2 separate regions of the Homo sapiens genome follow, and region 2 is linked to region 1. Evidence: fine-mapped QTL for protein levels in blood plasma. Region 1 holds a variant in brackets. A gene starts in the other region. All regions are shown on their reverse strands.

Region 1 (5,388 bases):
TTATCACCTTCAGTCTGTGAAGCAATTTTGGGTCTGCTTCCAATTAATGGAGTGTCTCAGTGAGACTGAGAGGTGAGGGCCTAGCAGATTGGTTAGTGCCACTCACCCAGACCTCCCAAAACACCCTGTTTCTTTCCCACCAAAGCTGAGCCTGCCTGAGGACCTAAACAAGCATGGAGAACGAAGATGGGACCCTAGTCAGGGATAGTGCTGGGCTGTGGGGTAAAGTCAGCTGGGTCAGTGCCTCCAGGTGTGGGAAGGAGCCGGCCTCTTCTCTAGGGCCCTGGGCAAGTCACTGCCCTCTTTGGGCCTCTGTTTTCTTATCCAAAAAATGTAGGGATGATGAGACTGAGAGGGGCTAATGATGAGCTTCAAAGGAGAAAAGAACTTTGAGAGTGCTTGTGCCTGGCTCTTCCTGAGATGATGAGAACAATGGTGACAGCTACATATAACTGAGTCCTCACAAGGCCCAGTGAGGTAGGTGGTTCCCATCACACTTTCAAGTTGAGAAAACAGTCTCAGGGAGGCCTGGCTGCATGCCCAAGGTTCCACATACAGGGAGTGTTGGAGCAGGGAGTCAATCTAGAATCAGAACTTACTGGAGATGACAGGAGCATTGGACCAGCTTACTCACACCAGTTATCCAGGATACCAGGTCAGTGTAACTGGGCATAACTGGGTGAAGGGAGCATAGTATCACTGACCTTTTCTTTGACTCTGGCAGATGAAGACATCCACGTTGGCCACCCTGGAGACGAAACCACAGAGAGGCCAGATGAGGCTAAAGCAGCAAAAAGGCAGTGTCCCTGTGATGGGGAGGAGCTCCAGGGAGTCAGAGGGAAGAGCTCCTCCCTCACAGCCGGAGGCCTCCACATCAAAAGAGCAAGGGGCCTTTCTCCCGTAGCCCTTCCCTCCTGTGGCAACAGTCCCTGAAATGCCTCTATAAGACAAATCTGAGTAAAAGCCTGGAAGAGCTGGATTTGGGAAATAGTGGGGGCAGGGACCACATAACATTGTGACTTGTAAAAATCTCACCACAGAGTTAACATGGGAACATGGGGGTTCATGTTTTTGGAGGCCAGCTAGGAGGAGGGGAGAGAGTTGGGGAGAGGCAGCTGAGTGTCTTTGGCTTTTTCAAGTGGAAGATGTAGATAGGAGGGTCCAGGAGACAGGGGATTATGAGACTTCAGGGGACAGGCCTTGAATGGACACCCAAAATTGGATACTCATCCCCATCACCACCCGATGGCACAGGGTGTTGCCTCCATCCTGGGCACATTTTCCAGTTATCTGGTGATGGGAGACCCTGCCAGAAAGGATTATATGGATGGGAGTGAGCCTGGGATGGGCAGGGCTGGAACCAGGATCCTGAGGCTTGGGAAAAGAGAATCCAGGACTACACCCTTAGATCTCAGCACTTGGCAAACCTCCTCTCATGAGAGCCTCACGGCTGCCTCTGTGAGCTGAGGCATCAGGCCCCTCTTCCCTATGAATGTTGAAGATTCCACATCAGCCGTCAGTCCCTGTTCCCAGAGTGGTGAAGCTGCAGAGCTGCCTGCTTGCAAAGCTCAGTGAGGTTTGGCCTGAGCTGGACTCAGACTCTCCCTCAGGTGGTTCCAATGGAAGGAGAGTAAACTTAGACCTCTCTAAGGGCAGGCAGCTCATATAAGCCTGAGCACTTTTTTAATGGGAGCCTCCAGTTTTTCTGTCATCAGAGAGAGTTGGGGCGGGAGGTCCCTGAGCCTCAGCTCCCATTGTTCTGTTCTTTGAACCCCAGAACCTGCTGCAGACCCAACTCCTGCTTTGTGCACATGCCCTGACCCTGGTGGCCCTGGCAGTAATGCAGTATGAAGGGAGTGGGGAGGGGACCTAGTCTAAGGGTCTAAGGGGCCTTTCTAATGAACACTGGCTGTCTGACTTCCAGGGAAATGTGAATAACACCAAAAAAAAAAAAAAAAAAAAAGGAAGGTGAGTAGCTGGGGCAACACTGGGGGAGAGTGGAGAGGTAAAACTCACAGATGCCCCTGGGGAGAATACTCTGTGTATCTAACTTATTTATCTATTTATTTTGATATAGAGTCTTGCTCTGTTGCCCAGACTGGAGTACAGTGGCATGATCTCTGCTCACTGCAACCTTCACCTCACGGGTTCAAGCGATTCTCCTGCCTCAGCCTCATGAGTAGCTGGGATTACAGGTGCATACCACCACATCTGGCTAATTTTTTATATTTTTGGTAGAGATGGGTTTTCACCATGTTAGCCAGGCTGGTCTTGAACTCCTGACCTCAAGTGATCCACCTGCCTTGGCCTCCCAAAGCGCTGGGATTACAGGCATGAGCCACTGCACCCAGCTTAACCTTTTCAGTAAATCTAAGATGCAGAGGATGGAGCCTCTGCAATCTCAGATTTAGATTCCATCCTCTGCATCTTAGATTTATTGAAAAGGTTTGATACACAGATAAAGAGACCCATCACAATGGAGGGTGTGAGTAGGGGACTGAAATCAAAAACCAGTTCCTGGAGGAGGGGCTGTCTGTATCCAACTCTGAAAATAGGTTGGGGCTGCCTGGCATTAGAGAACAGGAAGAGGCCCTTAAGAGAAAAGCCCCAGAAAACAGCCCGTTACCTCTCTTCCCCACAAGTTCCCTTCAACATTTTTCACCCAGGTCCGGTTAGTAGGAAGTTTACTCTCCTTCCATTGGCACCACCTGAGGGAGAG[T/G]CTGAGTCCAGCTCAGGCCAAACCTCACTGGGCTTTGCAAGCAGGCAGCTCTGCAGCTTCACCACTTAGAGAACAGGGACTGGCGGCTGATGTGGAGTCTTCAACATTCATAGGGAAGATTCATAGATTCATAGGCCTGAAGCCTCAGTTCACAGAGGCAGCCGTGAGGCTCTCATGAGAGGAGGTTTGCCAAGTGCTGAGATCTAAGGATGTAATCCTGGATTCTCTTCTCCCAAGCCTCAGGATCCTGGTTCCAGCCCTGCCCATCCCAGGCTCACTCCCATCCACAAAATCCTTTCTGGCAGGGTCTCCCATCACCAGATAACTGGAAAATGTGCCCAGGATGGAGGCAACACCCTGTGCCATCGGGTGGTAATGGGGATAAGTACTCACTTTTGGGTGTCCATTCAAGGCCTGTCCCCTGAAATCTCATAATCCCTGTCTCCTGGAACCTCCTGTCCACATCTTCCACTTGTCCTTCCCTTTAGCTGCAGGAGATCAAAGTCTTCCAGGAGATGCAGCTGCTTCAGCTGTCTGCAGACAATTATCACCTTCAGCCTGTGGGGCAATTTTGGGTCTGCCTCCAGTTAATGGAGTGGCTCAGTAAGACTGAGAGGTGAGGGTCTAGCAGATTGTCAGAGGGCATGGAGAATATTTGTTTTGGGCCAGCTGCCAAGAGCCTGTGGCCATGGCTCCCTGGTCAGTGTCAGGCCCTGCTGCATGATGACCCCTGGGACCCAGCACTCCAGCTGGGCAGGCACTGGGAAGGAGGCCAGGGATATGGATTCTACTAGCCTCACATCTGCCTCTGTACTGTAGCTACAACCTGCCTGCCAGCTGGATCTCTTATCCCAGTAGTCCAGCAACACCACCCTCCTGGCCATGGAGAACATGCCATGATAAATCTTAGGGAACACTGAGTGCCTGGACCAGCAGGAGGAAAGTACCTTAGAGCTCAGTGACATTTGGGCTAGGCATGGGATCCGGGTGTCAGACAGCTACACTGGGCTTCCAGCTCCACCACTGAACAGCCCTGTGACTGGGGCAGAGGACTCACTACTATGGTACTTGAGGCCCCATTGTCATAAATACAATGCACACTGCCAATTCCTTTTTCTCATTTATCTGTTTATTTATAATCACCATGTACTACTGATCTCTGTTGGTGTTTTTATTCAAAATTAATAAGCATGTGATACGTTTTTATCATTCTTCCTCATGATTTCTTTACTATATGATTCCTCTCATGTGTGGTACTTAAGAGTAAATCCATAGAAACACGAAGTAGGAGAGTGTTTCCCAGGGGCTAGAGGGAGAATAACAAGGAGCTGTTGTTTAATGGGTACAGTTTCAGTTTCAAAAAATGGAAAATGCTTTTTATACATGGAAATTATGGTAGCAAATTAATGAGTGTCCTTAATTCATGTCAACTGAAACCTTTAAAATAGTTAAAATAGTTAGTTTTATGTGTAATTTAACATCATGTATAAAATTCTTTTAAATTTTTATATATATATTTTTTAGGAGACAGTCTTGCTCTGTTACCCAGACTGGAGTGCAGGATTGTAATCATCACTTCCTGCAGCCTTGAACTCATGGGCTTAATTGATTTTTCTGCATCAGCCATCTGAGTAGCTGGAATGACAGACACATGCCACCATGCCTGGCTAATTTTTAATTTTTTTGTAGAGAGAGGGTCTCACTATATTGTCCAGACTGGTCTAAAATTCCCAGCCACAAGTGATCCTCCTACCTTAGCCTCCTAAAATATTATAGGCTGAACATGTTGGCTTATGCCTGTAATCTCAGTGTTTAAATATCTGCAGCAACACTGATGAATATTACAAATGTGATGTACAAAAGAAAGTAGATGTAAAAATATACATACTATATAATGCCATTTATGTAAAATCCAAAAAGAATATAAAATTGAAGTTTTGGCTTTCAGTAATGGTGGAGTAGCTTGTTGAACAATACTCTTACAAATAACAATGGTAAAATCTGGATACAATGTCATATATTGTTATATAGAAACACACATCTATATATCATACATAGGATATATGTACAGATAAGAACTGAATGAGAATTTTAGCTGTGCCCACTGAAAGGGAGAAGGGTATCTGAATTTGAATCCAGCCAAATTAACTCCCTCTTCAAAAAATAACAACAATCTTCAAAGGAATACAACAGAATCCAGAGTCTTTGTAAGTATTATTTATAGTTTTCAAAATACAATTTTAAAATTTAAGAGACATGAGAAGAAACACAAAATGTAATTCATGCACAAGACGAAACACAGGCATTAGAAGCTATCCCCAAAACGTCCAAGATGTTGTTATCAGCAGTCAAGTATTTGAGAGCAGCCATTAAAACTATAGTCATGGGGTGAAGAAAAAACGTTCTCATAATGAATGAATACATGTGGAATCTCAGCAAGAAATGCACATTATTAAAAAGAACCAAATAGAAAGATAATGAAATTTTAAAATAGTACTTTTAGGTTGATTCATAGATTAGAAAAAGACAGAACAATAGAAATTACTGAATCTGAAAAAAAAGAGTAAAAAAAGTTTGAAGAAAATGGACAGTCTTACCAATAAATGCGGTACAAAAGTAACAACTAATAGCTGAAAACTATTGGTCAAAACCCCCAAGTTTTGTTTTTT
Region 2 (5,388 bases), not on the chromosome of region 1:
TGTCCTCATGGTCACACATTTCTTTCAGCTCTTGTCATTCTAATTGAAGAGAGACCATTTGACATTCTAGCAATGGCTGCGTGGAAGCACTTAAAACCTTTGAGAGAATACAGTGTACCAGGGAAACTATTATTATGACTATCGGGAGGATAATACCAAGAGTTTGGAGTATGCTCTTTACCCAGGTTACCCATAAACCAAACCACCTAAAATTAAATAGATCAAAAAATGAGCTAAAGAGTCTACTTACTTAACTAAGCAATCTCTTCATTTATCCTCTACAGCTAAATCTCTATAGTCTTCATCTGATGTATTTCTCCATAGGCCACAAGTGCCAGCAGCTGCACAGATACTTCTCTATTCAGCCAATTCTATCATAATTTTCACAAGAGAATTTAAAGTCTGGTATTTAACTATATCCTATACAGTAGAATCTGCTATAGAGCCTACTATGAGGAATGCATTTCTAATCATTGCTTCTTTTACTCCAAACCATAGAAAAAGGAACTAACAAATGATGCCCTTCTAGAAAAGCAAAGGACTCCTGGCAATGTTCTTAGAAGTACCTGTACTATTCCTCTCAGTAATGGAGATCTACTTTCCATGTGCTCTCCAACACATTCAGGCACCAAACTTACAAGTCTTCTATTCTGGATTTGCCCTTCATACAAAATCTATCAACACTTTTTAAAAATCTCTTCATATTCCACCCTTTTGTCCTATTTCTACTACTACAAAATTAATCTGGGGAATTGTTACCACACTTATTTTTGCTGCCATCAATTTCTCAGCTCTGTAAATCACCCCATGCAGTGAGATCAGGTGGCTTTTATGAAACATTCTTTTGATCAAAGAATTTCCCAACCCTCCAAAATGTCAATGAAATTACTTTCCCATGTTATACAGAGAAGCAAATCTCCTTAGACTTCTATACAAAGTTTCCCCAACCTTTTCAACAGTCTTTCTGTCTTGAATATGCCTTGTGATATAATGATTTATCTGCTTTTGTTCTTCAACTCTTTCTCCCTTCAAATCAAGCCATACGCATTATTCAATAACAGTTCAAATGTCAAAACTTTCCTAGGTTTTACCCAGATCATATCAACTCACAGAACTCTCAATTACTGTATATATTTTTGGTCGCCCTACTTAGCATTAAACTACACTACCTAATAGTATTCTTTACTTATTCATATACATACTCCTTTCTCTCATAGTACTATGAGTCTTAGAAGAAAGAGATTTTATGTCCTTTTTTCTGTATTTTCTAAGAATCTATGTCGGGTCAATATTTACTCACTTAACAAATATTTACAAACTACCACCTATATTTGGTATTGTGTTAGTTTTGGAGATACAGCAATAATCAAGACAGACATAGCCAATTTCTGAAATTCAGGTTCACCAACAATATCTGGCACCACAGCGCTCAAGTTGCTCTCATTCTGATATCATCAATGTGAATATGGGAACAAGTAATAATTACAGGAATGACTCTTCTCCAAAAATGAAAAATAAGATATTCACAGTAAATGATAGACTATTATAGTGCTGAGAATGAATTGTTCGGCACTAGAAAGAAAGAACAAATAGGTAGGCAGAGATTTTGTGCATATAGGTATTTGAAATGTCCAATTAATAACTTAAGCAAGATATGGTGAAAACATGAATATAGAAGTGAGGGACAGATTGAGGACTAGATTTCATAAATATTTAGAAAGGCAAACTGTCAGTAATGAATTTTGATATTGGATGTAGATATAAGCGTTAAGCAGTCTAAATTCCAAAATTTTTAGTCAGTGCTGCATGAACTGAAATAAGCAGCAAAAGAAAACTAAAACAATGTCTGTGTGCTGATCCCTTGAAATTACCTTGTAACACTGCCAAAGGAAAATGGCACTGAGCACCAAGTTTGTTATAGTTTCAGTTGTGCCCAAGTGAGTCTCCAGAGTTGGTGAAATCTCAAGCCTCTTATTGCATGGCTTACAGAGAACCAAGGTATGACGGATATTAATCCTTGGCTTGACATCTTTTGACCCATCTCTCTTCCTCTAGGTCATAAGCGAATTCACTCCTTTTCGCTTTGAAAACAACTGTGAATAGAAGAAAATGCACCTATTACTCATCCGCCTTCTGAGAGAGAAAACATGTCTTTAACCCATGCTTGATACGTATGCTAAACTTGCAGCCAGTAGCCTTGGGTCAGGAGTTCTGCGTATTTTCATAAGAGTTGTTCCTGTTACTCTTCGTGAATTTTCTCACCATAAAACTGTTGCCAACGGGGAAGAGGGACAAGAACATGAAGTGTTTATGAGGGAGCCTGAAACTGACAACCTGTGTAACTGGAGTGCGTCGTTGGCATGACACTGGCAGCGCACTGCAAACTTAAGCACCTGTGGACTCCTAATTAGCTCTTTAAATTGAACTACATTAATTCAGGCATTCTTGTTTGAATGCGAACGCCTCCTTTTTCAAGCCACCCCCTGGGCAACCCGAATCCTTATATGACCTCCCTCCTCCTCCTAGTACGGCGCAGGTATGCGAACAGACATTTTCTTTCCTCATCAACTGGTGGTAATGAGAAAAAGAGAACTCTGCTTTTCACAAGGGAAAACGTGCAAGATTTTCTCCGTAGTAGGGGAGGCGGGGGCGATGGGAGGAGAGCAGCTCACGTAGGCAGATAGCGGCGATGAAAGCATAAAGCCCAGTGACGTCGCCCACACGTGGCGCCTGGCAAGTGAACAATCGCGGTGAGAGGGGCGCGCCGCAGCTCCTCAACGCCGCAACGCGCCGGCCCAACTGCAGGAAGGTCTGTGCTCTGGAGCCAGGGTAAATGTAAGACCCGGATTGGAGACTAGAAATGGCTAGGGACGGGGAGGTGGGGTGAAGCACAGGGGAGAGAACCATCGTTGAGGTGAGGGGGTTTCTGATCCTCCTTCGCTCCTCTTCCGGCATCTGGAGGGCACATAGCTAATGCCGGGCAGACTGAGAGTTCAATTTTGTTGCTTAGCGCCGACCTACCATAACTTTCAACATGCTTCTCTATGTTTAGTCTATTGAAACTCTTTACCTACCTTAAAAGAGAAATCATTCTAAGTACATAAGACCCATTGAATCATAGTAGAAGCCTGAAGTCATTTCTCAATCTGCTTTTTACGAAGTCAAATTAAGACTCTTAGTTTCTAATTGATGTTTTGAATGTACAGTTATTAGAAACTGTAATAACAATTAGAGTTGGGGTCATTGACTCTGCTGGACTTTATATCATCTATTGGCTTCCAGAATTTAAAAAAAAAATGAAGAGACAAAGCTGTTACCCCCAAATCCACGTAGTTAATACTTACCATGTGGGACACTGCTTATGGAAATGATCTTTTAAAGAATGGGTTGAAGTCCTAGATAAGGGGTTGGGAGTCTTGAAAAAAGGTTGCAATTTTCCAAGCAAGTTAGCCAACTAGTAGTTACTGAACTTCAAGAAGTCCACTTTTTTGTTAGTGTTTGAAGGAAATATCAGGGCGTTGAAATACAATCTGACCTCAGAAGGACAATATGGTCTTAACGCTGAAATCAAATAAATACAGTAAATTATTAGAAACAATACTAAACAATTGAGTCAAAATTTAAGTTTGTGACAAAGATTATAGATACCATCTATAAGGGTATTCTTCACATCTTTATTTTAAATATTTTGTTTCCTTGTTCTAGGGTTATAAAATTATACACCATGGCCCTCCTAAAGACACTCTAGGAAAACCATGTCATCCTGATCTTAAAACACCTGCAAGAAAGAGCACAGTACTTCACCATTAGTAAGTAGCAAAGAAAAAAAATGGTAGCCAACTTTTCAACTATATATCAATATGGGTTTAAAGGAATAAAATGTAATTATATGGAATAGAAAAAAATATTTTTCCTTGAATATACTCTCACCAACAGTGACATTGCTTTCATTGACTCAATGAAGATGAGTATAGGTTAGATGGTTGAGGTTATGAGAGAGAAGAGCAGCAAAGAGGAGAGTATGGCATCATGGCCTATTATAGAATTCTGGCTCATCAGATGCATACACTGGGTGATTGAGCTATACAAAACTCTTCAGGCTCCTGTGTATGGCTTTCAATGAGCTGATGAGGATACAACAGCCCAGATGTTAGAGCATTTTCCTAAAGTCAGCCAGAAGGTGTCTAATAGAACCAGGCCTTGAACATGTGAATCTCGAATTAGATTATACTGATTGTATTTTCCTATAACACCTGGAAGGAAACACATGTCTCTTAAACACTTAGTAATTAGCAATTCAATCAAACAGCATATGTTTATAGAAAGCTCTTATGAGCTCAACAAACTAGCAGACATTGCAAAAGATAATAAAAACATGAATAATTTCCGTTTATTTGTATTATGTGCATAATGTGTTTATTGTATTAGAGGTGTTACATACATTGTCCCTTCCAGTCTTCAAAGCAAAAACCTGTGATATAAAAATCTACATTTTACATAAGAAAAACACTGAAGCTTGGCATAGATTTCCCAGACCTGATGGTTTCCAAAGAATGCACCCGTAACCAATAAGCTACAGGTAGTTGATAATTAGAAAGTAAAAATCATAGACAGCTGAACTATGAGAGTTCAGCTATAAGGCAGAATCCTGGTAACCTTCACAGTAGTTAACCTGTCTTGGGTTGTCAATATAGAAATACTAGTCCAAAAAGGCCACATGCAGATTATCGTGTGCCTAAGGAGAAGGGAGAACTGATTAGAAAGGGAGGGCATGATTTACTTACTCATGTTAAAAACTATGTGGGAAGCAAATAATGTCAAAAGCATTATCAGACAACTGACAATGAAGTTTAAGGTTACTGGTATGAAAAATACTACTTCAGAACTTTGTTGACTTAGATTTATTTAACAAAACCAGAGTTTGACAAAACAGGAATATGTGTAATATATATGCTGCTCTAAACCTTCCACCTTCTTTCTTTCTAAAGATAAAGTAGATATTTCATCCTGCTCAGAAAACCAACAGTAAGTGTTAAATCATTGATTTTAATGTGAATATTTTATCATGCCAATCATTTTTATGTTGTCAAGGGTAAAATGATTAATGAGTTTGCCCATGATTTTATTTTTTTGTTTTTTGTTTGTCTGTTTGTTTGTTTGTTTTAGAGACAGGGTCTCTTTCTGTCACCCAGGCTGGAATGCAGTGCTGTGATCATAGTTCACTGCTGCCTCAAACTCCTAGGCTCAAATGATCATCCCACCTCAGCCTCCTGAGTAGCTGGGACTACAGGCACTTGCCACCATGCCCAGCTAATTATGTTTTGTTTTTGTTTGTTTGTTTTTAGTAGAGATGAGGTCTCACTGTGCTTTCCAGGCTGATCTTGAACT

Alleles and levels. Positions count from the first base shown, and alleles are read on the strand shown. Strength reflects both the effect of a copy and how common the allele is.
In carriers of allele T in region 1, the plasma level of the protein whose gene starts at base 2,767 in region 2 tends to be higher than with G alone (moderate association).

The links. PIP is the posterior inclusion probability: the model's chance that the variant is causal. The UK Biobank Pharma Proteomics Project read protein levels with antibody pairs (Olink). The fine-mapping took linkage between variants from a reference panel, not from the people measured, so its PIPs are less certain.
Region 2: CRISP2 starts here. The variant in region 1 is fine-mapped to the plasma level of the CRISP2 protein (UK Biobank, PIP above 0.99).

The regions. Positions count from the first base shown.
Region 1 is chr7:64,039,646-64,045,033 of GRCh38, reverse strand. No RefSeq gene overlaps it. Among named protein-coding and RNA genes, the nearest start is that of ZNF727, 3.1 kb to the left of the region's middle. The variant T/G (reference allele first, on the strand shown) is at 2,720.
Region 2 is chr6:49,710,922-49,716,309 of GRCh38, reverse strand. CRISP2 (cysteine rich secretory protein 2) reads left to right here and starts at 2,767. Exons shown (of 10, transcript NM_003296.4): 1 at 2,767-2,835; 2 at 3,706-3,809; 3 at 4,989-5,025.